4 linked regions of the Homo sapiens genome follow. The protein of the gene in region 2 interacts with the protein of the main gene of each other region in a biochemical or structural test. Each region holds a gene or a part of one and is shown on either strand. Other genes may lie near its edges. The genes, in order: ARHGAP32, CRK, EGFR and RAPGEF1.

Region 1 (7,143 bases), on a different chromosome or scaffold from region 2:
TCTCATACTTTAAATCATCTCTAGATCACTTATAATAACTATCAATGTAAATGTTATGTAAATAGTTGGCATACAGTATTGTTTAGGGAATAATGACAAGAAGAAGCCTGTACATGTTCAATACAGATAGGACCATCCCTCTTTTTTCCCTGAGTATTTTTGATTCAACCAAGAGGTTGAATTCATGGATGCAGAACCCATGCATACGGAACCTGTGGGCCAACTCTGTTGCTGTGATTATTACTACTTACCACTGCTACTAGGAAAGTCAGCACTTTTAACAATGTTTCTCTTCGAAAAAATTCATTCTGACTTGCAGTGTTTAAATTGTTGCTGTAAGAATGCTTCTCTCTTTGCTGCTGTGGGATTAGCTATTTCCCTTCCCCTCAGGTTCCCTACCTCTTGGAGGTAGAAGATGAGAACCAGCTAGTTCGAAATTACTGCTGGTGACTCCTGTGGTTTCAGTCAAAGACTTCAGCTCCATAAAAGCTTGTTGGGAAAGTGAAGGCTGATCAGGGTTTAAACAAATCAGGAAGAAAAGGAGTTAAAACCACCTTGTGGTCTTCAGCAGTATCTAGTCTCTCTCACACACTGGTAGCCAGAGTGATGGACTCGGCTGTGTTCCATCCCTGCCCCCGCTGTTAACCATCACCTGTTGATTCCGCTGGATTTTCATTTACTACTGGAGAAGGGAACAGAAAACAGAAACACATGTAGGTTTTGAATTTAAAAACTTTTTTTCCTTTTTTTTTGAGACGGAGGTTCGCTCTTGTCTTCCAGGCTGGAGCGCAATGGCGTGATCTCGGCTCACAGCAACCTCCAGCCGAGGCGGGTGGATCACTTGAGGTCAGGAGTTTGTGACCACCCTGGCCAACATGGTGAAACCTCTTCTCTACTAAAAATAAAAAATTAGGCGGGTGTGGTGGCGGGTGCCTGTAATCCCAGCTACTCGGGAAGCTGAGGCAGGAAAAACATTTTTAAAAAACTTGTGATGGCAGAGTCAAAACAGAACAAGCCTCGGAAGATGTGCACATTTAACTGTCCTTCAGTATTCTGTGTAAAAATACCACTCACAGTTCACGTTTTCACTTTTGAAAGGCTCGAAGTGAGGGAAATCAACCATCATAATGAAAGAACAAAAGAATGATTAAAAGAAAAGGTGAATAGGATTCATGAAAACGCTTTGAGGCCGGGCACAGTAGCTCATACCTGTAATCCCAGCACTTTGGGAGGCAGAGGCAGGCAGATCACTTGAGATCAGGAGTTCGAGACCAGCCTGGCCAACATGGTGAAACCCCATCTCTACTAAAAATACAACAACAACAACAAAAATTAGCAGGTGTCGTGGCACACACTTATAATCCCAGCTGCTTGGGAGGCTGAGGCAGGAGGATTGCCTGAACTGGGAGGTGGAGGTTGCAGTGAGTCGAGATCGTGCCACTGCACTCCAGCCTAGGTGACAGAACAAGACCCTGTTTCAACAAACAAACAAAACAAAACAAAACAACCCCCCCCCCCACAAAAAAACAACACTTTGAAGGAGTTAGAGTTGTTTAGAAAAAAAAGAACTAGATTCTTAATGAAATAATATTTAAAAATCCAATTCTTTACTGAAGGTCATGAAAGATTCTATTTAAAATTAGTTAATATTTTGGTAAGGATTATATGTGCATGACATAGTGAAAAACTATCTTTCTTTCTTCTTTTTTTTTTGAGACGGAGTTTCACTCTTGTTGCCCAGGCTGGAGTGCAATGGCGTGATCTCGGCTCACTGCAACAATCTCCACCTCCCGGGTTCAAGCGTGTCTTTCTTTTATTCCTCTTCTCCAGCTGTCTGTTTTCCTCCGTGGAGACAACTACTGGTACTAGTACTGATCCTCTTCTTCCATAGATAGTCTGCATTTGTTTCTCCTAACTCCTCATTGAAAACACAGATGGCAGCATAGCATACTGCACATACTGCCCTATACTTTTACCCCTTTCTTCTTTGCCTTAACAGTATTCCTTAGGCTTTGTTCCGTATTGTGACCTGTAGGGCTGCCTTGTTTTCTCATATACTCACTGTGTAGCATTCCATTCTATGGGTATTCTGTAATTTGCCTAGTTTTCTATTCCTCAGGAAGTTAGGTTGTTTTTGCTATCCTATTTTGCTACTATAATGTCTACCAGAATGAATGTTCCTGTTTGCCTCTTACTTCTACTTGTGAAAGTGAGATAATTTCCTAAAAGAGAAATTGCTGGGCCAAAAAGATGTGCATTTTGAATTTTGGTAGATTTTGCTAAATTGCCCTGAACACAGGTTGTACCAGTTTAAACTCCCACTGACAGGCATGTTTCTTTTCCCATGTCCTCTTTCAGTTTGTTAAAACCTTTTAAAAGCTTTGCCTATGTGATAGATTTTTTAAAAGTCATCTTATTATGTATTGTTTTACATTTCTGTTATCAGTGAAGTTACTTTTAACATCTTTTAAGTTTCTTTTATGTTTATCTCTGAGTATTATATTTTTGCTCTTTGCCTATTTATCTTTTGAGCTCTTGGGTCTTAGAAGTTTTTAAGAACTTTTTATATATTAAATAAATTAACCCTTTGTGATATGTTTCAAATATTTTTTTCTCAACTTGTTTGCATTTTGACTTTGCTTATAATGTTGTTCTGTTGTTTTTGGTTTAAAAAATTTTTTTTGAAAAGTTTTTAAAATTTATATATGTATTATATGTATTATATAATATATATTATATATAATATATAATATATAATATATATTATATATTATATAATATATATTATATATTATATATAATATATATTGTATATGTATTATATAACATATATTATATATATTATATAACATATATTATATATTATATATAACATATATTATATAATATATATATATTATATATAATATATATATATTATATATAATATATATATTATATGCTCTAGGGACCTGCATATATATATATTTTTTTTTTTTTTTTTTTGAGACAGGGTCTTGCTGTGTTGCCCAGGCTGGAGTGCAGTGGCGTGATTATGGCTCACAACAGCCTTGAACTCCCAGGCTCAGGCGATCCTCCCACCTCAGCCTGTTGAGTAGCTGGGACTACAGGGTGCACCACCACACTTGGCTGTTTCCCGCCCCCCCCCCCCCCCCCCCATAAAGATGAGGTCTCGCTAAGTTGCCCAGGTTGGTCTTGAACTCTTGAGCTCAAGTGATGCATCCACCTCAGCCTCTCAAAGTGTTGGGATTACAGGCGTGAGCCACTGTGCTTGGCTCTTTATTTTTCAAATATGAAAATTCAAGAAGACTTCAGTAGATGTCTTCTTAATTTTTGATTAAATCAGATACAGTGGAAAGTCAGGGCTTTGCAGTTTGTTGCTGCTTGGTAAAAGACAAATAGCCATGAATATCCAGCAGGTCAGTAGTTTCTGTCAACATGGCTCTTTTCTAAGTAACAGTTGTGTTGTTGACAGTCATAGATGCTATACCTTTCACTCATTTCCCAGCAAGTCATTTTATTGCCACCATGACTGTTTGCAGTTTAAATGTGTAAAACTTTGCATGCTTTTATTTGATGTGATTGTCAGCATCTTTGAACTTGGGACACTTAAACTTTTTTCTTTCAAGGACTGTGGACAAGCCCAGCTTTTATGTCTCACTCTGGATACTTGAGCAGAGATGCATATGGCAGTCCTTACTGAGAGGAAGGAAAGATGGGTGTAATATTGGAAGGCATGAACCTAGGCAGGTCCCTAGAGCATACTTATCTTCTCTACTTATTGTGAGCCTCCTTAACTGTGAGATCTATAACTGTGCTTCTCATGTGCTTGGCCAGTGGATGGTGTTATTCTTTCTAGTTTTCTATTTACCTTTCTGGAGTCCGAGATCAAAAAAGGATACAAATAAAGCCTGCATTTTGAAAATACCTATTTTTAACTTATTAAGTGGAAACTTTGAGAAGAGTCATTATTACAGAATAATTAGTAAAAAATCACCTTCATTTAGATTCTGCTTTTGGTTATGTAGGTCACGCAGCCTAAGGCAGTGGGAGGGTCTAGGTGTCACCAGTATGGCAGTCAGACGCAGTGACTGTGCTGCCTGTGATTTCCTGTCTGTACCCTGACTGTAATTAAACCAGCACCAGTACCTGTCACTAGGGCACCAGACACACATCTGAGTATACATGAGTAGAGCTGAACAACCTGAATGTTGGTGCTTTTTATTCCATGCCTGGAGGTTTAGTTTTTTTTGTTTTTTAAGTACAAGATGGAGACTGAAAGTGAGAGTAGCACTTTAGGGGATGACAGTGTCTTCTGGTTGGAGTCTGAAGTTATAATCCAGGTGACTGACTGTGAAGAGGAAGAAAGGGAAGAGAAGTTCAGGTGATTATGGAATTCACAGTTCCTTTGTCCTGTCCACTCCCTACCCCCACCCGCACCCCTTTTTCTTCTCTGCATTTCGGTCTTTTTTCCAATAAGACTTTCTGTTTTCTGGGGGAAGGTTTGGAGCTCAAGGGAGCAGGTTTTGAGTTGTATATAGCACTCCTCATTCCACAACTTGCCCTGAACTTGTAAAATGCATTTTAAAGGACTTGTTAGAACGCCAGGAGGAGAAGGTGTTAGACAGGTTTTGTAGTAGCCTTTCAGGAATTTCAAGTAGACACTCATAATGAACTACTACCCCTTCCTGTATCTGATTTGTATCAAATAGATTTGATCTGAATTTGTATCTAATAGATTTTTCTTCCTCTTTTTCTTGGAATGTGGTGTGTGTGTGTGTGTGTGTGTGTGTGTGCGTGCCTGCCTGCCTGCCTGCTTTGTTTGCCTTATGCATGGGTATGAAAAATTCCGATTAAGTACAGATTGGTTATTTTGTGGCTTTGATCTTTACCCTTGTCTCTGATCTTGTATCTCATGCCCCCTTTCCCCCAAATCTCTCTTGGTTTTTGAATCTCTGGTAGTATTAGTAACTTCATAATTGAAGTTTTTAGAGGATGCCTCCTGATGAAGCAGCTCTCAGTTTAGTGTCTGTGGTGAAGAAAGATGTCTTAACCAGTTTGTGAAAACAGAACCAATGTTTCATTCATTCTGTTGTACTGTTGCAAATTTTAGGGGGCTTTATTCTGGCTTTTCTTTTTCTTTCAGAGTTAGCGATGTAATACCTTTGAGTATCACAAAAATCTCTTGATGAAGTTTGAAGTTTGTTGCTGCATATTATCACTGCCACTCACATGTGCAATTAAACATCTTTTATAAGTTTACCTATGAGAACTTGGATAGGTGAATATACTGTTTTCATCAGATACTGTCTTTGTGTTTAATGCTGAAAAAGAGTTTCTCCTTTTCTCGAGTCAAAGGATTTCTTTATCCACAAATTTTATTTTTTAAAGTCTAGGTTAAATGATGGAAGGGATTGAATATTGGGAACTCTTGATAACCCTCACTAAATTTTTTACTCTGGGGTTCAAATAAATGAGAAGTATATTTAAAATTTTAAAAGAATAATTTTCAGAGTATAAAAATGAATTATTAGCATATGATTATTTTTTGTCTGAACTTTTGTCTCATTTTCCCATAATTTTATCTAGCCTTTCAAATTTGAGTAAGTCCCTTCCCTTCCAAGGTATGCTAATTGTTAGTCACATGTTCTGCTTTTTAATATGGTTTGTGTCTTGCTAACAATGAGTAGGACTGAAGTATTTGTTTTGCTTGTAATAAAACTTTTTGACCTGGTATTCAAATTATGGAAGTTATTTGGGTATTTGTCAAAGGAAGAAACAACTTGGAACTTATTTCATTGTTGTTTTTATAACAGATTTGGTACTGTAATCCTAGATTTACTTGTAAGGCAGTGGGCGTCTCTCTGGGATTTTCTTTTGACAGTTAAAAGCAAATTTGTGTAAGGATGAGCTCTTCTTTTCCTTGGGAGTATGTGACAGCATTTTCACTCTGAGAAACTGAGCTAGTGATGTGTTGTTTAAGGAAACTATGATACCATAGGGCATTTCTCTTCTGTTTATATTTCCTATCTGAATAGCACCATGGCTCTCCTAAATCAATTATATCTTTGTGATTTGATCTGATTTTATTTACAAATGTAACAAAGAGGTCTGGGCAAGGCCCAATTTCATGTAGTGTCTCTCACGCATTCAGCAGTGAGGCATGAGGAAATGTGGCAGCAGAGTGGTTTCACAACCTCGTGGTGGTGTTCCTGCCGAGATGCCCTACAGGAAAATGGAGGCATGGGTGTGGAAGGGGAAGGGTCGGATAGGAGTTGCAGCTGTAACCTTGGGAGGACCAAATAGTAGACTCAGTGTGGTATGACAGTTGTTTTTGTAAAATCAATGTAATAATTTTAAAAATGTCTTACTGTGTTTTTATAAAAATCTCTGCAAATACATGTGACATCAAGCTGTCGTATTGGTTACATTTCCATTCACATACACACACATAGCTGAGATGAGGGCAAAAGATTGTGCACTTTTCTTTTTCCCTGAATAGCTTGTAAACTACATTTTAAATGCACTCTTAAAAGCCTGCTCTTGTGTAACTTAAGGCACCATGGCTAAGAGAGTAAAGTCATACCACACCTAGAATGTAGGCTTCTGGTGCTTCCAGGTGCCATCTGCTTTAGGAGGAAGTAGTCTCAGAGACAAGTTAATGTTTGTCCAGTAGCTTTTGAAATAGCATTTATTTTTGGACTCAGTTGGAGGAAAGGATCCTTTTTATTAACACTCTTTCACTATGGGAAGTTGCCGGTCTCCTTCATGGTGGTAGTTTAAATTTGTCTGCCATTGACTCACAGATCTTTCATTTTCTGATTTCTTATTTGTAGTCGGTATTATTACCTACCTTGTCACTGTGGTAAAATAGTTATTAGACTAGAATATTTAGTCCTTAGAATAAAATAGTTCCTAGAGATGATTAGAAAAATCCATCCCTGGATAAGAAGGAGGAATATAAGGCAGAAAAGGAAAAACATAAATGTTTTAATTCTATCAAGAAAGAAAAACTTTACTTAGAAATTGTTATATGTAATGTACTAGGCCATATATATGCTTTATACAGTGTATCAGTTAACTGCTTATCACTCCTATAAAGCAGGTATCATTTTTCCTATTTCCTCGGTGAGGAATTTATGG
Region 2 (7,026 bases):
GCGGCACGTCTTAGGAAGACAACCTCCCACCCGGCTTTCACCTTCACCTGGATCTATGTTCCTGCTAAAGACAGTTGGAATAACGCACTGTGTCCTGAGATACAACAGAATCGCCATGAGCAACTACGACCATCTGTGAACACTTCCAAGGTACTCTCTCCACTGGAAGAAGGAAGGTAACCACCCCCTGCCAGCCACTGTTACCATAGCAGGCCGAGCGAAATACATTTTGGCGGGGAAAGAACAAATGAGACTACTAAGCCAAGTCGCTCTGAAAGATGAGTGAGAGAAAACTTGGCAGATCATCTGGCGCAAAGGTAGGAAGCAGGTTTAATTCTCTTCTTGGTCAAATGCCACAATAGCGTGAACTGGGCTCACTATGACTTTTTTTTTTTTTTTTTTTGAGGCGGAGTCTCGCTCTTTCGCCTAGGCTGGACTGCAGTGGCGCCATCTCGGCTCACTGCAAGCTCCGCTTCCTGGGTTCACGCCATTCTCCTGCCTCAGCCTCCCGAGCAGCTGGGACTACAGGTGCCCGCCACCACGCCCGGGTTTTTTTTTCTGTATTTCTAGTAGAGACGGGGTTTCACCGTGTTAACCAGGATGGTCTCGATCTCCTGACCTCGTGATCCGCCCGCCTCGGCCTCCCAAAGTGCTGGGATTACAGGCGTGAGCCACCACGCCCGGCCGTGACTTTCTTTTTGTTTGGCAATCCCAATAGACACAGAAACGTAAGCAAAACGCCACGGAAAACCTTTGATGTACTTTACTTATAAATTATTTTTCTATTCTGACACTGTAATAATTTCACAGAGAAATGCCCGTTTCTGTGAACTGCTGGGGGCCATCAAGCTTCATTGATCCAAACTCCAGAAGGAAGGGAGGAGAACAGAACACACATAAGTCCCAGATAAGCCCAAACCTCACCATGGCTGTGTGTTCCGGCTCCTTTTCTCTCTTTCCTCTCCTTCCAACCACAAACAGCCAAAGGCAGGAAATAGAAGGGCGGGAAAGGAAGGAGGCACAGTCAGCCAGTCTAGAGAACAGAAGCAACGACAGGATTCTCATAGCTATCTGGGACTTGGAAAACCTCAATGACTTGTTCTACATCACCCTGTGCTGGATTCTGAACGTGGAGTTAGGAAGTCACACAAACGGAAATCAAAATCAATGCAAGGAGAGGATATCCTTTCAGCTTCTCGGTACCTGCTCAGCCCGTTACTTCTAAGCCTTCCAAGCATTTCAAGCCTCAGGTTACGACCATTTTTACAAGGCCACTCCCTCCCTGAAGGTTTCATGAAGAACACCTGAGGGCTCTGTGGGCTAAAATAGGCCCAATCACTTCTGACGGGTCTACAAGAGCGGGCCAGGCTCTCCTTGATCTCACAGCACTTTCTCTTTTCCTTTTTTTTTTTTTTTTTTTGAGACGGAGTCTCCCTCTGTTGCCCAGGCTGGAGTACAGTGGTGCGATCTCAGCTCACTGCAACCTCTGCCTCCTGCCTCCTGGGTTCAAGCAATTCTCCCTTCCTTAGCCTCTCGAGTAGCTGGGATTACAGGCGCCCACCACCACACCTGGCTAATTCTTGTATTTTTAGGAAAGACAGGGTTTTGCCATGTTGGCCAGGCTGGTCTCGAACTCCTGACCTCAAGTGATCAGCCAGCCTCAGCCTCCCAAAGTGCTGGGATTACAGGCGCGAGCCACCACACCCGGCCCTCTTTTCCCTTTTTTCCTCAATTCTTGCTCCCTCCCTTCCTTCTCTGCCTGTGGTATTTACAGGGGTTGCTTAGATAAATACCCACCAATACAAAACGCTAAAAAGGCCACTGGCTCGGGAGGCTGAGGCAGGAGAATCGCTTGAACCCGGGAGGCGGAACTTGCAGTGAGCAGAGATCGCGCCACTGCACTCCAGCCTGGGCGACAGAAGGCCACTGGTTTCCATCTGAGAAGATATATGGTCTCCTAAGCAAATAGAATGTTCTAAAGATGGTGGGTATGAGGACGGTCCTTTGCAGGTTTGGTGCATTGTGGCTCTCATTTTCTAGCTGTCTGAGTTACCTAACTTCTGTGTGCCTCACCCCCGACTCTGCAAAATGGGGTCAAATACCTATCTAATAAATAAAGTTCCTAAAGTGGCTAGAGGCTGGGCGTGGGGGTTCACGCCTGTAATCCCAGTACTTTGGGTGGCAGAGCCAGGCAAATCACTGAGGTCAGGAGTTCAAGACCAGCCTGATCAACATGGTGAAACCCATCTCTACTAAAAATGCAAAAATTAGCTGGGCATGGTGGTGCACGCCTGTAGTCCCAGCTGCTGGGGAGGCTGAGGCAGGAGAACTGCCTGAACCTGGGAGGCAGAGCTTGCAGTGAGCCGAGAATATGCCATTGCACTCCAGCCTGGGTGAGAGCAAGACTCCATCTCAAAAAAAAAAAAAAAAAAAAAAGAAAAAGTGGCTCGTACATTATAGGTGCTCAATAAAAAGCAACCAATTCTCCAAATTCCTTCAGCAATTTTCAATTCATCCTCAAATCCAGAGCCCACTGGACCGTTTCCCAGAGAAAATTCCACAGGATCTCAAGATGCTTCTCAAAAGTTCTGTGGTCAGGCAGGTGCGGTGGCTCACACCTGTAATCTCAGCACTTTGGGAGGCTGAGGCAGGAGGATCTCTTTATTTTTTTCTCTATTTTTAAAAACTGATTAACCAATCTTTAGGGAGACATCTGTTGAGGCCAGGAGTGCAAGCCCAGCCTGGGTCATACAGTGAGGCTGTAGTGAGCTATGACGGAGCCACTGCACACCAGCCTGAGCAACAGGGCCATCAGCAGTCTCACGCTACCTCCAGAAGTGGCTTGGCCCAGCTGCCAGCCTGGCATGTAGCTCTTCACTACCTCGAGGGAGTATCACAAACTATTACCACCCTAGCTTCTGTCCCACGCCTTCAAAATGAAGCACGTTTTATGCCCCCCTCCACCCACTAGCGCAACAGGTCGGATGAGCAGGTAACAGGAGGCACCATCTTATTTCCAAGTGCTGGACCCGAGGTCCTTTCACACTTACGGATGCACTCCACCCAGGCACCTACTCCCCAAGACAAACTGTTTCACCAGTTCCTACCATCCACAGCATGAATTCCACAGCCTCTCAAAGATAAGAAGTTTTCCATTTTGCTTCAAAAGCCCCCACACCTCAGTTATGTTATTAAGATTCGTATACATGAAATGCTTATGGAGTACTTAGTATGCCAGTACTGAATATGGAGTATCATTCCAACAACCCTATGAGATCAGTATTACTATTTCCCTCCTTCACAGATGAGGAAACTGAAGCAGGGAAAAGTTAAACAATTTGCCCAAAGTTACACAAGCAGTAAGTGGTAGGTAAATAAGGCCCAACCCAGGATCCACAGCTCAAGCTTATAACGACTCTCCTAACTCACACTCCTTCAGCTGTGTCAACCTGAAAGGTTTAGCTGTTCAAGAGAAAAAAAACTAGTTTCTTGCAAGCATTCCAAGGAGGTCCATCTTGAAGCCCAACCTGACAGAATGTGACCAGTAGACTTGGCCAAGCCCTTCCTTATGGCCCCAGGGAACTCCCAAGCTATGGCACCACAGGAAGCCTATGCAAGCTGAGGACCCAAGACAAGTTAAAAACAGGTTCAACGGAAAAGGCTGAGAATCACTGGCCCATTCTGTACCCATGCCTTTAAAAATAATACCCAGCTGCGCACGGTGGCTCACGCCTGTAATCCTAACACTTTGGGAGGTCAAGGCAGGTGGATTACTTGAGGTCAGGAGATCGAGACCAGCCTGGCCAACATGGTGAAACCCCCATCTCTACTAAAAATACAAAAAAATTAGCTGGGAGTGGTGGCGCATGCCTGTAATCCCAGCTACCTACTCAAGAGGCTGAGGCAGGAGAATGGCTTGACCCGGGAGGGGGAGGTTGCAGTGAGCTGAGATCGTCCCACTGCACTCCAGCCTGGGCAACAGAGCAAGACTCTGTCTCAAAACATAAATAAAGTTTAAAAAATAAGGCGCGGTGGCTCAGGCCTGTAATCCCAGCACTTTGGGAGGCCAAGGTGGGCGGATCACGAGGTCAGGAGCTCAAGACCATCCTGGCTAACACGGTGAAACACCTCTCTACTAAAAATACAAAAAATTAGCCGGGCATAGTGGCGGGCGCCTGTAGTCCCAGCTGCTCAGGAGGCTGAGGGAGGAGAATGACGTGAACCCGGCAGGCGGAGCTTTCAGTGAGCCGAGATCGCGCCACTGCCCTCCGGCCCGGCGTGGGCGACAGAGCGAGATTCTGTCTCAAAAAAAGAAAAAAAACACATAAAAATGACACCTAAGCCATTCCATATAATTTTCACCTATGCACTGTGTAAACAAAATATACTCTGTAGGCTAGATGCGATGGCTCACACCTGTAATCCCAGCACTTTGGGGAAGCCGAGGCGAGCGGATCACTTGAGGCCAGGAGTTCAAGACCAGCCTGGACAACGTGGCAAAACCCCGTCTGTACTAAAAATACAAAAAAATTGGCTGGGCATGGTGGCGCATGCCTGTAATCCCAGCTATTTGGGAGACTAAGGCAGGAGAACTGCTTGAACCCAGGAGGTGGAGGGTACAGTGAGCTGAGATCGCGCCACTGCACTCCAGACGGGGCAACAAGAGCGAAACTCCCTCTCAAACAAAACAAAACAAAACAAATAGGCCGGGCGCGGTGGCTCACACCTGTAATCCCAGCACTTTAGGAGGCCGAGGCAGGCAGATCACAAGGTCAGGAGATCGAGACCATCCTGGCTAACACGGTGAAACCCCATCTCCACTAAAAATACAAAAAATTAGCCGGGCGTGGTGGCGGGCGCCTGTAGTCCCAGCTACTCGGGAGGCTGAGGTAGGAGAATGGCATGAACCCCACGGGGCGGAGCTTGCAGTGAGCCGAGGTCGTGCCACTATACTCCAGCCTCGGTGACAGAGCGAGAAACTGTCTCAAAAAAAAAAAAAAAAAAAGCAATAACAATTTTAAAAAGCTTCTTCATCATTGACTTTAGATAGCAGATGTGTATTGTCTGAATAATAAAGCCAGTGGCACGATCTCAGCTCACTGCAACCTCTGCCTCCGGGGTTCAAGCGATTCTCGTGCCTTAGCCTCTCCAGCAGCTAGGATTACAGGCGTCCGCCACCACGCCCAGCTAATTTTTGTATTTTTTAGTAGAAACAAGGTTTCACCATGTTGGCCAGGCTGGTCTCGAACTCTTGACCTCAAGTGATCCACCCTCCTTGGCCTCTCAAAGTGCTGGAATTACAGGCATGAGCCACTGCGCCCGGCCTCTTCTTGCCATTCTTTAATTCTGGTCTTTAAAAAACCTGGGCTGGATGCGGCTGTATGTGCCTGTAGTCCCAGCTACTCACAGCCTGAGTCAGAAGGGCTGCCTGCCCCAAAGTTAAGGGCTGTAGTGCACTATGACTGTGCCTGTCAACAGCCACTGCACTCCAGTTTGGGCAACATAGTGGGGGGAAAAAAAAACAAAAAACACAAGGCCGAGGTGGGCGGATCACCTGAGGTCAGGAGTTCGAGACCAGCCTGGCCAACATGGTGAAACCCCGTGTCTACTAAAAATACAAAAAAAAAAATTAGCTGGGCACAGTGGCACATGCCTGTAATCCCAGCTACTCGGGAGGCTGAGGCAGGAGAATCACTTGAACCTGGGAAGCAGAGGTTTCAGTGAGCCGAGACTGCACCACTGCACTGTAGCAGCCCGGGGGGCAAGAGCGAAACTCCATCCAAAAACAACAAAACAAAAAACACCAAGTCTTAGACTCCAGGGCAGAGGCAAAGTATTGAGGATATTGAGGATACGGACCTCTATGTGCACTGCTGAGATGCCAAAAGAACGCTGGCTTTGAGAGTGTAGTGTAAAAGGGTCAGCTCTCAGGTCAGAATGCCTAGGTTCAACTTCTGAAAGTCATTTATTAGTTGTGTGACCTTAAGCAAGTTACTGAATCTATGAGTGTTTCCTCCTGTATAAAATGGGAATATTTTAATAAATGGAGATCATATTACTTATCTCACTAGATTGTCCTAGACAGTAAGTGAAATAAGGTACATAAAGTACTCAAAGTACCTGGCACAGAATAACCAGTCAATAAACATTAGTTATTAATATTCTATACGCCTCTCTAAAAAATTCAAGAAATTTCTCTGTGTGACTTCAAAAGGACTTGGTGAGGGGGAGAACAAAGATTCAGTACTTAGTACTTGAGATTTGTGAGGTACAAAGTAATTCTGAGGTTATACAGACAGGCCAGGCGCTGGTGGCTCACGTCTGTAATCCCAGCACTTTGGGAGGCCGAGGTGGGTGGATGATCAGAGTTCAGCAGTTCGAGACCAGCCTGGCCAACATGGTGAAACCCCATCTCTACTAAAAAAATACAAAAATTAGCTGAGCATGGTGGTGGGCGCCTGTAATTCCAGCTACTCAGGAGGCTGAGGCAGGAGAATTGATTAAACCTAGAAGGCAGAGGTTGCAGTGGGCCAATATCGCGCCATTGCGCTCCAGCGTGGGAGACAAGAGTAAAAACTCGGTCTCAAAAAGAAAAAAAAAAAAAAAGACAGCAACTGACCAGGCACAGTGGCTCACACCTGCAGTTCCAAAACTTTGGGAGCCTGAAGCATGAAGTCTATTGAGATCAGGAATTTGAGACCAGCCTGGACAATACCGTGAGACCCCTCATCTCTACAAAAAAATTTTCAACAGTTAACCAGGCATGGTGGATACGCCTGGAGTCCCAGCTACTCAGGAGGATGAAGTGGGAGGATGGCTTGAGCCCAGGAGGTCAAGGCTGCAGTGAGCTGTGTTCATGCCACTGCACTCCAGCTTGGGTGACAGAGGCTCTGTCTCAGAAGAGAGAAAAAGACAGCAACTGAATCGTAGAAAATGGGGTACAACATGGCAGAAAGAATTATCACAATACTCGTGAATTTTCCACACCCCATCCATAAACTTTGGCAATCTTCACCGTCTTTCCTC
Region 3 (7,026 bases), on a different chromosome or scaffold from region 2:
GCAAGGGGAAAGGGCCCAGGGAGCCGGCTCATGACGATGAGCCTGTCTGAAGCTTCAACGCGGGCTGTCCGGCAGTCTGCATTCCTGCCGAGTTCCTCAGCCCTCTGTTGGGTCACCTTCCATAGAGGCAGCTTAGTCCTCAGTTCAGTGAGCATGGAGTGGAGACTGCTTGAGGGGTGCTGAGCAAAGCCCTGCCTCTTACAGGATGAAGGTGCTCTCCAGAAGGGACACTGGAAAGTATTCCAAGGCGAGTCGAATTCCCAACTGAGGGAGCTTTGTGGAAATAAGCCCGCCCAGCCCCACTTCTGGAGACGTTCCCATTCAGTAGGTCCGAGCTGTCTTAAAGAGAAACCAAAGTGGGGATATTAATGGTATCCAAAGTGAGATCTACCCCACCCTCCCTCCTCAAAGGAGGTCAGATCAAGAAAGCCCAAGCCCGGCCTGGCAATTGGGACCTTTCTTCTCACTCCAGCCCAGGGTGAAGGTGGACAAGTCACTTTGACCCTTCAGGCTTCTGAGCTGTTGTTTCTGAATTCAGTGAATATTTACTGAGTGCATAGAATATGCTAGATATTCTGGGCTAAAGGTTGAAGGGGGGGTGAGTTTTAAGGGTTTCTGCTCTTGCTTCCAGATTGCTTTCAAATCTGGAAAGGACACCAGTGGTTTGTGTGTTAGACCCACACTGCCGTAGCACAGAATACAAGAAACTGGCTGAGAGCTCCAATAGGCTTTTAACAGTAATTTCTGGCTTCACGTATTTAGTTTCATAACTCATGATTTTTCAAAAACTTCTGGTTTGAAGACACCGATTGCCGAAAGTCCATTGTGCTGCATAATTACACTTGGTCCACGTGACAGCACTAACATGTTCTGAAATGTTTTTAGAAGTAGTCTCAGCAAAGATGAAGGATTCCTCCCTGTTTGAAAAGAAAATATTCTTTGTTTTTTCTTTGATCTAAGCTCTAAGACTAGCAGCTAGCATCTGAAACTTTTTTGACGAGAGTGACAAACCAACTCTAATATTAAAGGCAATTGATGATTATGGGCACTGAAGGGAAGGTAACCCCAGGCTGGTGCCCCGGAATAGGGATGGGTCACAATGTTGAGGACATTTCGCCTGTTGCAGAACCCACCTGCAACACAGTGTGGCCCTTGCCATGTGACTTGTGTGTGTGCCTGTGTGTCTGTGTGTGCGTGTTTTAATTTTGACTTCATAAGTACTCTAGTTATGAGCTTATTTAACATTGGGTTTTACTAATAGGGGTATGTGTTGAGAAAATTTCAAAGTTTTAGAATATGGTTCACCCACATGTTGCTTCCCTGTAAATATAATTTTTAAAACCAGATTCTGGGCCGGGCATGGTGGCTCACCTCTATAATCCCAAAACGTTGGGAGGCCGAGGCAGGCGAATCATGAAGCCAGGAGTTTGAGACCAGGCTGACCAACACGGTGAAACCCAGTCTCTACTAAAAATACAAAAAAAATTAGCTGGGCGTGGTGGCAGGTGCCTGTAATCCCAGCTACTCAGGAGGCTGAGGCAGGAGAATTGCTTGAACCCAGGAGGCAGAGGTTGCAGTGAGCCAAGATCGCACCATTGCACTCCAGCCCGCGCGACAGTGTGAGACTCCATCTCAAAAAAAAAAAAAAAAAAACAGATTCTGTTCCTCAGATCCATTCCATTTTTGTTTTCCTTTATCACTTATGGACATTTGAAATTATGGTAATAAACATTGTTAGTCTCAGTTAATTATTACTGGTTTATTCTTGAACCACTAATCCATAGAGAATAGAGTGTAAATCTTAACTTGTTCCTGTAGGCCATCCCCATTAAACATCATAGTGTTTTCTCATTCGTTCTTTTTCGTTTTCCTCCTACAGGAATGAATTTTCTAAGAAAATTCCAGCAGTTGGCTCTTTGGACGACATCTCTAGATTGTCCTCCATTGGGCCCATAGGCACAAGCTGGCCAGTTTGAATTTGGGCAAGAATCCAGGCATTGGAACTTATTCAAATAACTAGTTTGCCTGTAATTTTCACTTTTTCAGAGTCATCTGATAAAGCTTTCTTGCTACACATTTAGATAGATACACTCAATCCAGTTGTCTAGAAAGTTCCCTGAGCCAGCTGGGAGCAGGAGGGGTAGTTGGGGCCAGGAATATTGGGGGTGTGTTTACTGAGCCCCTAGAAAGTAAGTGCTAGATTTGACATTTCAATCCCTGAAGGCCCTGAAGTTCAGTATCAAATGACTGGTCCTGTGGACTGAGCATCTGTGAATTGCATATGCTTAGAGTAAATTTTACTCCTACCAGTTTCAGCAGCTTGCTTTAGCAAGCAGTATGGAAACACTAACATGGGGGAGTAGAATTTCTCTCTCTGATCCAAGTTTTATCTCATTCTGGTGGGTTTTCAAGGAGAGACTCGGAGTCCAAGTGTCCTTTCTGAATATATCTGGAACTTCTCATTAACAAAAGACTCAAGTTATAATTTAGGGGACAAGGCACCCAATGAGAATGCCTTGCAGGCAGCCCTAAGTACACCTGCAATTACACCATTACTAGCGCGGCAGCACACATGGCCCTGACTTAGTTTAAATAATTACGTAAGTCAACCATGATTGTTTGCCCTTTGCATAGAAGGGCAAGTATTGGTACCTGTTACAACTTAGGCTTTTTTTTCTTTATGTTTGAGCCATGATGAGTGATTTACACTGTTGCATCCATATGTTGAGATGTAAGAATAAATTAGACTTGGTAATTGCCCTTAAGTGTCTGGAAGTCAACTGGGGAAAGAGAGCTAGAGATAATAAGTGTGAAACAATGTCACAGAATCAATGACGGAACTCTTCCCAGGACAAAGGATGACTTTTGAGTTCAGTCTTTGCCTTTAATTCTACATGGGGAGGAGAGCACGTTTAGCCACAAATGGAAGGGATTACTCATTTGAGCTATTTGGTTATATGATTATTTCCCCAGAGAATAGGATGTGCAGGGCATTACACAAGCAGTGCCAATAGCAGCAAAGTTCTTGAGAGTGCTAGTAATTCAAATGGCAGGAAGAGAAGGAATAAATGGTAAGGCTACCTACAGTTCACAGAGAGCTCCATCCTCACTGTGGCTTTGGATTTTGTCCTGTGTGAAAGAGAAGTGACTGTGAACTGACATGCTGTGTTTGGTGTTTTAGAAAGATGGCTGCAGCAGCGGTTTGGGGAATGGACTGCAGGAGTGGCATTGGAAACAGGAAGGTTCATGACTATTGCCAGAGACAGAGGATGAAGCAGGAGCAAGGAAGATTCAGGACAGGGGACTCCGGGGCTGATCAGGAGGCAGAACTGGTTGATAAGTATATGTAGCAGCATAAGAAAGAAAGAATCCCAGATTGACACCCAGGCTTCTCACTTGGAAGCCTGGATAGATACTGAATGCAATCACAAAGGCTGGGAAGTCAATGGGACTGCAGGGAAGGGAAGGGAAGGGAGGAGAAGAGGAAGGGCAGGAGGGTCCAATATCAATATTCAGCTTTTAGATGTGTTGAGCTTGAAGTGCTCAGATGGAGAAGTCCAGGAGGCAGTAGAATACGGTGGTCCAGAGCACAGGAGAGCAATGTGGCTTGAGTTGTCATTTGCTCACATATTTCCGTGTCAGTTACTTGTCTTAGATCACAGAACAAGTTCTCCTCTCACAGTTTCCTGGCTCCACCTGTCTCATGCTCACCGTCAGCATCGAAATTGAGCCACACCAGGGGTTCTGGATACCAGCTTCTCTCTAGGTGAGGCTGCTATAGTCAGCAGCTGATTAGTTGCAGTTATCAGCAACTGGTAATATAATATATTGTGCATATAAGTGTACCAGAAGTCATGTTTATATATTGCTGCAAATACTCGGAATGGGGATCTCTTGTTCCCTGCTTAAGACCACATCACATTACTTGGTTTTGTACGCTAGTGGCTGAACCAAAAAAAGTAGGAGATGATTTTTTTTCTTTTTTCTTAAAGCAGTAGCTTTTGAACCTTGACCATGCTTTCTAACCAGCTGAGGGGCTTTTGAAAAAGAGGGTGCCTTACTGTGCCCCAGACCAGGACAATCAGTATTTCTGGGGAATGGAGCCTGGCACACACACATTTCTTAAAGCTCCCTTGGCAATTCTGAGGAGTGGATTACATGTTGTATGTAGCTCGTAACGAAAGAAATCTTGTCTTTGCTCTCAGACCCCCATTTCTTACTCATCTCATGAGCTCCTTCGAGATCCAGAAACAGTTGCATATTTCATTAGTAAATCAGTTCCAGAGTCACATTTTATTTCACAAGTTAGTCCATTAAAAGTTTCCTGCAGTGAGGAAATAGCCAGAAAGAACACTCCACCCCTCCTCCTTTTTATAACTATAGGGTCTGGCTCGACAGAGCAGGAGCATCGCCATCTTGGACAAGCCCCTCATTCTAAAGTTCACCTTAATAAAAAACTGCCTAAATTCAAACTGCATCAGCCTAATGGCTAAGGTCAGCATGACCATAAACCACAAATAACATCTCCAACCGGAAACATTCGAAACTCCTCCTCGACCAGAGACATGCTAGTCCCGAGATAACCCCCCTCCAGCAGGGAAGATGCCAGTCTCGGGATAACCTCTCTCTGGCCGGAAAGATGCCTGCCCCAAGATAAACTTGCCTCCTCCCAGAGATATTCCAACCCTGCCATAAAACTTCTCCCTCAAACAGGAACATTCCAAAATTCTGATAATCTCCCTCACCCTAAAACCAATATATACTCCTAGTCTGTAAGAGAAAGCGCTCTTGACCAAAATTCACCAGGAGTGCCTCCCAGGTTTTAACTAAAGAAAACCTCTCTTTAACTGCCAAAAAAAAAAAGGGAAAAAAAAAAGCTTTCTGCAGTGGCTTTCAGCGGGCCCAGCATGGCAGCAGCACCTGAGAACCTGTTGGAGATGCACACTCTTGGACCCCACCCTGGCCTCTGAGTAAGACACTGGAAGGGCAGGCCCCGGTCTGTGCACACAAGTCCTCAGGGAGATTCTGACTGATGCATGCCAGATTTTGAGAACTGCTGATATACTCCAGGCACATCGCATGCTGGGATCTAGATACACCAAGGGAACAAAATAACTGCACTTGTCCTCTGAGGACCGACTTACCTTTTGGAAGGGCTGAGAAAGAGAGACACATACAAGATCACTCCCTGTAATGCAATGTTTTATAACAGATGTGATTTGGGATTTCAGTGGGAGCCCAAAAGAGGGACTGACTAATTCAGCCTCTGTGACAAGGGGAGTTTCTCAGAAACAGAATGCTTAGCTGGGCCTCCAGGCACAGGGACAGGAATGAGGAAATACTTGTAGGCCCTGTGCTCCTTCAGCAAAACCCTCAGTTTCTTGTTATTTTTATAAATGCAAACATCTTATTAAAGTAGATGCTAAGGCATTAGAATTTCCTGCTTTATTTTTCTAAATGACCATGAGGAAACCTGGAATGTCAAAGATAAAGTGCAACACATTCTGCATTTAAAAATTAAAATGATCCTTTTTAAAAGTAGCAACCAGATGTGAAAAATTGGACTGGAGTCCAGGTTATAGTTGATAGCTTTAACTTTCTCCCCAACAGCAACAGCACAATTTTCCCTAAAATGTGTTATGAATAAGTAAAATGACTACTTCACATCCTTTAACTCTTCCTACAGAAATCTAAGAGAGAAATGAAACAAAAGTTTGCACAGTTCTAGACACGATAAATACATGTGAAATCACACAACTCAGAAAATGTCCCTTAAATTAATTGAGCCATTGGTACTTGTGAATTAGAAGAGACATCTATGTTCTGATCCACTGTTGAAAGCTGTACAATGTTACCTATTTATTTGCAGACATCCTTTGGAAACAAATAGGTAGATTTGCAACAAATAAAGAGTGGAGTACAGCTGCTGACATTACCTTGTATATTCATGCCTTTATGTAAAAAAAAAAAAAAAAATATATATATATATATATATATATATATATATATACACACACACACACATATGGAGGTAAAGACCACTGCTTGCTTTGCAGTTGTTTTAAGAGCATTCATGAAGGATTTTATTTTATAAGCAGAAATGTGATATCTGACGATTTTACCACTACATGCTTGCAGGCCAGTGCACAGCAGATGACGTCATGATTGTTTTAGCAGTCCTATCGTTTTACTTATGATGTCATTACAACCCTTTGCTAAAATTTCTTTCCTTTACTCCAGGTTTTGGATAAAATTGATGCATTGCACATAGTCTCTCTGATAAGACAAACTGGCATTTGTATGTGAAAAACTGTGCATGTTTTAGTGTCTCTGCTGATACTCAAATTATCCATTATTTTAGTGCTGGAATAAAAACAAACCACTTAGTGAATTTGTGCAGGTCCTTAAGGACAGGCAAAGGTGTCCTGAGATTTTCTGATCATTGTATACCAAATTTTAGAAACTTTTTCAAAAACATTTTTTTAATTTCAAAAACCTGGTTTTGTTTATTTACCAGCAATCATTGAATACCTGAAAGCTTTCAGGAGATTTTATTACAATGGTTTCTATTCACTTACAAAATTATCTCCTAGTTCATTCTCATACACTGTAAGCCATTGTAAATGCTTCAAATTGTGCCGAACAAGATAAACTAGACAAACTATTTTAAGTTTGTTCTAGTGCTAACTTGCAAGATCTAATGGCTCCAACTAGATTTTTAAAATAAAGTATATTTTAATATATTATTAGAAAGTTAAGCAATTATCTGTTTATAGGTAACAAAAACCCTGGAACCCCAATGTCAGATGTCATCCACTTTTGATTAAGTCCAAACATATGACAGATAAACAAAAGATGGTTGGCTGGGCTCAGTGGCTCATGCCTGTAATCTCAGCACTTTCAGAGGCCGAGGCGGGCGGATCACAAGGTCAGGAGTTTGAGACTTGCCTGACCAACATGGTGAAACCCGCCTCTACTAAAAATACAAAAAAAACAGCTGGGTGCGGTGGCACGTGCCTGTAGTCC
Region 4 (6,956 bases), on a different chromosome or scaffold from region 2:
GCTGGAGTTGGTGCTGCCGCAGTACAAGAGCCCGGCATGACCCCTTGTCTTAATAGGGCTTTATTTTCTGTTATCTTACAATTTATTTTGTTTTCAGACACAGGTCTCACTCTATTGCCCAGGCTGGAGTGCAGTAGCTATTCATAGGTGTGATCATAGCACCCTACAGGCTTGAACTCCTAGGCTCAAGTGATTCTCTTGCTTCAGCTTCCTGAGATGCTAGGCTGTTCCACAGCCTCTGCTCCCAAGTTTTCTCACAATTGGCACAATTCCTAGGCTGGCCAAGTCACATATTCTACCCCATTCCTGCAGTCATTGGCCTGGGGATAGACGTGTGACTCAAACTGAGCTAATTAGACTCTGCCATGGGGCTCTCTTTGAAACAATGAGGAAAGAGATCCTCTTTGTCCATTGGGGTTGTTAAGCAGGCAGGTGACAGGCCCAGGACTGCTGGTGCCCAGCTTCACCCTTTGCTACCTTGTAGAGAAAGATGACCTGAGAAGGGAACCAACATAGAGGACCAATGGCCTTGTTCCAGAGCCTGGGTTAGCTGCATTTGGACCTAATTGTACACCTGGTTTACTAATTATGATCTTCAAAAAATGCCCTTCTTGCTGTAAGCAATAGCAGAGCTAGGTTTCTGAGAGTGAAATCAAGTTTCCTAATCAGTACAGGAGGATGGCCCTGTTGGGGCGTGTCAGGGAAGCATTCTCCATAGAAGTGACAGTGAAACTAAGAAGCAAAAGATGACTGGGACCAGCCAAGTGGAGAGGAGGGGAGGGAACATTCTAGACAGCAGGAGCAGCTCATGAGAAGGTTCCAAGTCAGCCAGAACTGGGCTTTGGGAATCCGTTTGCTTCATTACCTTGTGTGTGTTCTACTATAGTTATAAACATCTTTGATGAATAGCCTTTATTAAGTAAGTTCTGTGACCCTGATTTACCATAATGTCCATTTGCAAAGTACTTTGTTGTTTGCAAATCTTTTGTCATTGGATATGTCATAATTTATTAAATATATTTGTGTTCTCACAAACCCCTGACTGCACCTAGTATCCATGCAGTCTAGTTTTCTACTTTTCAACCAGGATTTTGGATTTAAAATATCGGCTCTTCTCAGCTCAGAAGCCTAGAAGGGTTGGGGGCAGCATTGAGTGTGTTTTGGGGTTGGGCCTGGGACCAGGGGCCAGTTTTGCCTGGTAAGGCATCTGCCAAGAGGGCTGAACAGGGCCACCCTGGATCAGAGCATCCATTCATCAGGTGGAAGAGGGAAATGAATTTGTCAATCTTTGGATTTGCCTTTGACCTCTAGAGGGCTGCAACTGATGAAATGATGATGGGAAATTTGGCTGCCATCTATGACCATCTCCTTTTTTTTTTTTTTAAAGAGGGAGTCTCGCTCTGTCACCCAGGCTGGAGTGCAGTGGCGCGATCTTGGCTCCCTGCAACCTCTGCCTCCCAGGTTCAAGTGATTCTCGTGCCTCAGCCTCCTGAGTAGCTGGGACTACCAGCGCGCACCACCACGCCCGGCTATTTTTTGTATTTTTAGTAGAGATGGGGTTTCACCATGTTGGCCAGGCTGGTCTCGAACTCCTGAACTCAGGTGATCTACCCACCTCGGCCTCCCAAAGTGCTGGGATTACAGGTGTGAGCCACCACACCCGGCCTGACTAGCTCTTAGTTGTGGAATCGGTGACCCTTTAGACTGTCCAGGGAGATGGGAATAAGAATCTCTCACAACATTAGCAGTTTTTCCTCCTCCCTGCACCTCCCCCAAATCCTGTCCCCATCACTAGGTTATTTAATTTACTTATTTTGGGGGAAACAGGAGGGAAAACTAGCCCAGGTGGTGCGTGCTACTTCTTTGTATTCCATCTTAGACTAACAACAGGAAGCAGGCAGCAGAATTGCCCCACATTGGAACATCACTTGCGTTACTAATTTGTTGTTATTTACTACTTGTATTATAGGATTTAACTTTGACTTCCCAGCTAAGTTGTGAACTCTTTGGAGGGAAGCACCAATTGTGCCCACTTTTGTAGGGCCCACAGAACCCGAAATAGTGCTTAGACTTAGCAGATCCTTTGATTCTTAAATGACTTTTTTTTTCCTTTTTTTTTTTTTTTTTTTTAGCCAGGGTCTTCCTCTGTCACTCAGGCTGGAGTGCAGTGGTGCAATCATGACTCCCTGAAACCTCTGCCTCCAGGGCTCAAGTGATTCTCCCTCATCAGCCTCTCAAGTAACTGGGACTACAGGCAGGTGCCGCCGTGCCTGGCTAATTTTTGTATTTTTAGTAGAGACGGAGTTTCACACATTGCCCAGGCTGGTCTCGAACCCCTGGGCTCAAGTCATCCACCCACCTCAGCCTCCCAAAGTGCTGTGATTGCAGCCGTGAGCCACTGTGCCCAACCACGACTTTTTTTTTTTTTTTGAGACGGAGTCTCGCTCTGGAGCCACCAGGCTGGAGTACAGTGGCATGATCTCGGTTCACTGCAACCTCCATGTCCTGGGTTCAAGAGATTCTCCTGCCTCAGCCTCCCAAGTAGCTGGGACTACAGGCGTGTGCCACCATGCCCACCTAATTTTTGTATTTTTAGTAGAGATGGGGTTTCACCATGTTGGCCAGGATGGTCTCAATCTCTTGACCTCGTGATCCACCTGCCTCGGCCTCCCAAAGTGCTGGGATTACAGGCGTGAGCCACCGTGCCCAGCCACGACTTTTAATGAACTCATTTCCACACTAGAAAAGTTCCACAGCTGAGCCCCAGGGTGCCCTTCTGGATGTCAAATAAGCAGGGCAGGCAGGGTGTGCTGTGTCCCTGAGGGAGTTGGGCCCAGGCCAGCATGGAGGCTCTAGGCCTCAGGGGACATTTAGGCCTGAGTAGGGCCAACCCCAGCCCGGGACAGGTGGCTCTCGCTGGCAGGGTGACTGAGTCCCACATGCAGGGCTGGGGTGGAGAATGAATCCTCCGCCTTGGCATAGACCTTGGGCCAGCAGAGGGCTTTCATGCCAGAGTGGACTCATTCCCCGGCTGGAGCCTCTGGGCTGGCAGGAGGTGCTATGAGGCCACTCCCAGGCCCTGGTGTGGGGTCTCCAATTAAGAAGGGGGTGCGGGCAGGGTGCAGTGGTTCACACCTGTAATCCCAGCACTTTGGGAGGCCAAGGTGGGTGGATCATGAGGTCAGAAGATCGAGACCAGCCTGGCCAACATGGCGAAACCCCGTTTCTACTAAAAATACAAAAATTAGCTGGGCATGGTGGCATGTGCCTGTAATCCCAGCTACTCAGGAGGCTGAGGCAGGAGAATTGCTTGAACCCGGCAGGCAGAGGTTGCAGTGAGTCGAGATCGCGCCACTGCTCTCCAGCCTGGCGACAAAGTGAGACTCGGTCTCAAAAACAAAAAACAAAACAAAAAAGGGGGTGCTGCATCTCTGGTTTGGGGGAGGTCAGGACAGGCTCCCAGCCAGCAGAGCTTGTTGAGTCCTGGTGAGAGTGAGTTCTAGGCCCTGGTGTGGAGCCTCTGGCCCACAGGGGATGCTGGGTCCGGGATGATGCTAGGGTGGGGTGGGCGTCAGTTCCACGTCCTGGGGTGGAAAATCTGACCCAGGAGGGTTCTCTGTGTCTCTGGTGAGGGGGCAGGCCAGGCTCTTGGGCAACCGAGGACCCTGGGTTGGAGCTGTCAGTCCCAGGTCTGGAGCTGGTGACTCTGGTCCCACAGCAGAGGAATGCGGAGTCCCAGGCGGGGTCGGCCCCACACCCCAGGCCCCAGGCCCCGGCGTGGGGACTCCGGCTCGGCAGGGGGCGCTGCGTCTCGCGCGTCGCGCGGGAGGCTCGGGCGGCTCCGGGCCCACAGGGGGCGCTGTGGCGGCGCGGCGGGCGCCCGGCAGGTGGCGCTGTGGCCGTGGCCGCGGCCGAGGCCCGGCGGGCGGGCGGGCGGCGTCGCTGCGCTGCGGCCGGCTCGCGGGCCGGGGGAGCGGCGGCGGGCGCGCGGGAGGCGGAGCGGCGGCGGCGGGCGCGGCGGGAGCGGCTGGGCCCGGGCGGGCTGGAGCGCGGTCGCCGAGCGCAGGGCCGCGGCCGCGCGGAGCCCGCCATGCCGGCGCGGGTCTGAGGCGTGGCGAGCCAGGGCCGAGGCGAGCGGCGGGCGCGCCGCCCCTGTCGCCCCGCGGCGGCCCGGCCCGGGCCCGATGAGCGGCGGCCTCGGCCTCCGGCGCAGCCCGGAAATGTCCGGCAAGATCGAGAAAGCAGGTGAGGCGCGGGCGTGGGGCGGCTCCCTCCGGCCGGGCCCGGCCCTGGGGCTCCGCCGCTCCCCGGGCCGAGCGCGGGTCGCCCGGGATGTGCGGCCCTCCGTGCGCCGGGGCGGGGTGAAGCCACCGAGGCCTCGCCGGGGCGCCTGGCAGCTTCTCCTCCAGGCCCATTGCCTGCCGGGCGCGGGGGGAAGCGGCCGCTGCGGGGGCGCCAGGGGCCGGGCCGGGCGGGGCCCCTGCAACCCGGGGCCGGGCGCGCTAGCCGCTCCGCGGTCCCCGGGAACTTCCGAAAATGGCTCGAGCCCCAAGCAGGGGAAGAACAGCCCGGGCCGCGTGCTGCTGCGGCTGCAGCGATCGGTGCCCGGCCTGGGCTCGGCGCTAGGAGGGTGAACCCAGCTGAGCTGTAAAATGTGTCATTTCTAACGAGCTTCGAGTTTAACGAGAAGCGTCCACTTCGGTTGCTTCAAAGGAAGCAGGCTGGATGAGTGGGGGTATTTTGAGGAGGTAGTCAAGTTTCCCCTCCCCACCCCGATCAAGCTCAGCTCTGCAAGGAGGGCAGGTGGGGGACCGGTGGGTTGGAGTAGATGGTAAATCTTGATGCAGACCTCGTCTCTTTGTGTGTTCCTAGAAATCTGGGGGAGTTACCTTCCGAGTCCCTGGGTTTGCCTGTCCTGGAAATAGAGTCTCCAAAGATTCAATGACTGTCGAGCCTGTGGGGCCCCAGGCTTTATTAGCCTGCAGCACCTTGCAGGGCAAATGCGAATTCTTGGGTCTAAGGTGAAGTGGGCGGGTGCTCCTGGGCTCCTGTACTGGGAGCATGCCCTGTGGTCATAACCCCGGTAGCAGGTTAGCTTGGCGGCTGAATGAGGGAAAGCAGATTTTTAGGGAGCTGCAAAGGAGGTCTGTGGCTTTGATTGTGGAAGTTGCTTATGTTTCCTGGGTTGAATCTGGGATACTTCTGTGGGGTGCACCCCTGCAGCGGACCCACAAGGCAATATGACTTTTGCAGGCTGTGGTTGAAGCACAGAAGGACATTTTTGTAGGCTTTATTGAGGGTTTACTATATATCTAACTCTTAGCACCTAAAATGCATTGCTTCTTAAATTTTTGAAGCTAGTCTGTGGGAAAGAATATGGTCCCAGTTTTACAGGCTCAGAGAGGTTCAGTGAGTTCCGGCTGTCCAGACAGCAAGAGGGCGGCAGGCCCCTAGTATATTCATTCCTGGCCCTCTGACCAGAAGCCAGGGTGCTTTTCTCAGGGGCAGGGCGCTTGGGTTCAGGTGCCATTTCTTGAGTATTTTTCTCACTGAATTTGAGCCCCCACAGCCTTGCCGAGTGACCATGAGTCGCCATCCTGTACACCTGCTGCTCCAGAAATAACTTGGGTTCATCTGTGCAGCATTTCTCAGGAACTTCTTGTATAGTGTCTTGTCAGAACGGTACTGTTGGGAAACTTGGATAATTTATTTTAAAAAGAACATTCACTGAGTTCTTTTATAAGAACTTTATAATATATAAGATTATATTATATCTTTTTATATCTAATATAAGATTATATTATGTTTTATATCTTTATAATATAAGAATATTCTATGTTCATTGTCAAAACTTGGAAATCACAGAAAAGTAAAATGAACCGGATTGGAAATCATCTGTCAGCCAGGTACAGTGGCTCACGCCTGTAATCCCTGCATTTTGGAAGGCCAAGGCAGGAGGATCACTTGAGCCCAGGAGTTTGAAACAAGCCTGGGCAAAATGGCGAGACCTCATTGCTACTTTAAAAAAAATTTTTTTTTTTTTTTTTGAGACGGAGTCTTGCTCTGTTGCCCAGGCTGGAGTGCAGTGGTGCGATCTCGGCTCACTGCAAGCTCCGCCTCCTCCTGGGTTCACGCCATTCTCCTGCCTCAGCCTCCCGAGTAGCTGGGACTGCAGGCGCCTGCCACCACGCCTGGCAAATTTTTTTGTATTTTTAGTAGAGACAGGGTTTCACCGTGTTAGCCAATATGGTCTCGATCTCCTGACCTCGTGATCCGCCCACCTCGGCCTCCCAAAGTGTTGGGATTACATGCGTGAGCCACCGCGCTGGGCCTCTTTTTTTAAAAAAAGGAAAAAGTTGCCTGTCATCCCATGAGCTGCCCAAACCGCTGGGAATGAAATGACTCTTCATTTGAGTTCTCTGCTATTTGGGAGAAAGACCTGAGGCCAGTTCATTTCAGCATAGTTTGTCCTTGGGCCTTTTCTGGGCACCGCCTTCTGCTAGGGGGTTGTAGATGAAAGTGCCTGCTCCCAGAGAAGCTTGTCTAACCTAGCACAGTTTCTAAGCTACCCAGGCTGCCAGACCGAGCGACCGTGCTGCCATGGACACAGGTGAGAGAGGGGTGTCATGAGTGCGGGAATGAGGAAGACACTGGAGGGGACAGTGTTTGTGCTAGGCTCTGAAGAGAGGGCTGAGATATATACCTGGTGGAGACAGGGAGAAAGAGGAGAGAGGGGAAGGGGCTGACCAGGAGCTGCGGAAAGTGTGGGAGGAAGATGCATTTTGTGAGAAGCAGAAAAAGTAAGAGTTCTGAGATTGGCAAGACCAGGGTCAGGACCTCGCCTGCAGATTGGGGATTGCAGATGTGGAGCTGGCTGGAAGTCCAGCCTCCTTGCAGAAGGTCTTTTGCTGCAGTTCATAGGAATCATAGTGAAAGATTACAACTGCCAAGGAAGA

What was found.
Region 1: the proteins of CRK (region 2) and ARHGAP32 form a complex in vitro, tested with the Homo sapiens proteins (2 studies listed by BioGRID and IntAct, with this or other methods).
Region 3: the proteins of CRK (region 2) and EGFR form a complex in vitro, tested with the Homo sapiens proteins (3 studies listed by BioGRID and IntAct, with this or other methods).
Region 4: the proteins of CRK (region 2) and RAPGEF1 form a complex in vitro, tested with the Homo sapiens proteins (4 studies listed by BioGRID, with this or other methods).

Annotation. Positions count from the first base shown.
Region 1 is NC_000011.10:129,189,324-129,196,466, reverse strand, and holds the start of ARHGAP32 (rho GTPase-activating protein 32), read left to right. Parts: upstream 1-4,141; 5' UTR 4,142-4,268; coding exon 4,269-4,384; intron 4,385-7,143. UniProt on the Homo sapiens protein: GTPase-activating protein (GAP) promoting GTP hydrolysis on RHOA, CDC42 and RAC1 small GTPases. May be involved in the differentiation of neuronal cells during the formation of neurite extensions.
Region 2 is NC_000017.11:1,446,207-1,453,232, forward strand, and holds part of CRK (adapter molecule crk), read right to left. Parts: intron 1-7,026. UniProt on the Homo sapiens protein: Involved in cell branching and adhesion mediated by BCAR1-CRK-RAPGEF1 signaling and activation of RAP1.
Region 3 is NC_000007.14:55,022,017-55,029,042, forward strand, and holds part of EGFR (epidermal growth factor receptor isoform a precursor), read left to right. Parts: intron 1-7,026. UniProt on the Homo sapiens protein: Receptor tyrosine kinase binding ligands of the EGF family and activating several signaling cascades to convert extracellular cues into appropriate cellular responses.
Region 4 is NC_000009.12:131,737,059-131,744,014, reverse strand, and holds the start of RAPGEF1 (rap guanine nucleotide exchange factor 1), read left to right. Parts: upstream 1-3,938; 5' UTR 3,939-4,184; coding exon 4,185-4,245; intron 4,246-6,567; exon of another isoform or gene 6,568-6,600; coding exon of another isoform or gene 6,601-6,610; intron 6,611-6,956. UniProt on the Homo sapiens protein: Guanine nucleotide-releasing protein that binds to SH3 domain of CRK and GRB2/ASH. Transduces signals from CRK to activate RAS. Involved in cell branching and adhesion mediated by BCAR1-CRK-RAPGEF1 signaling and activation of RAP1.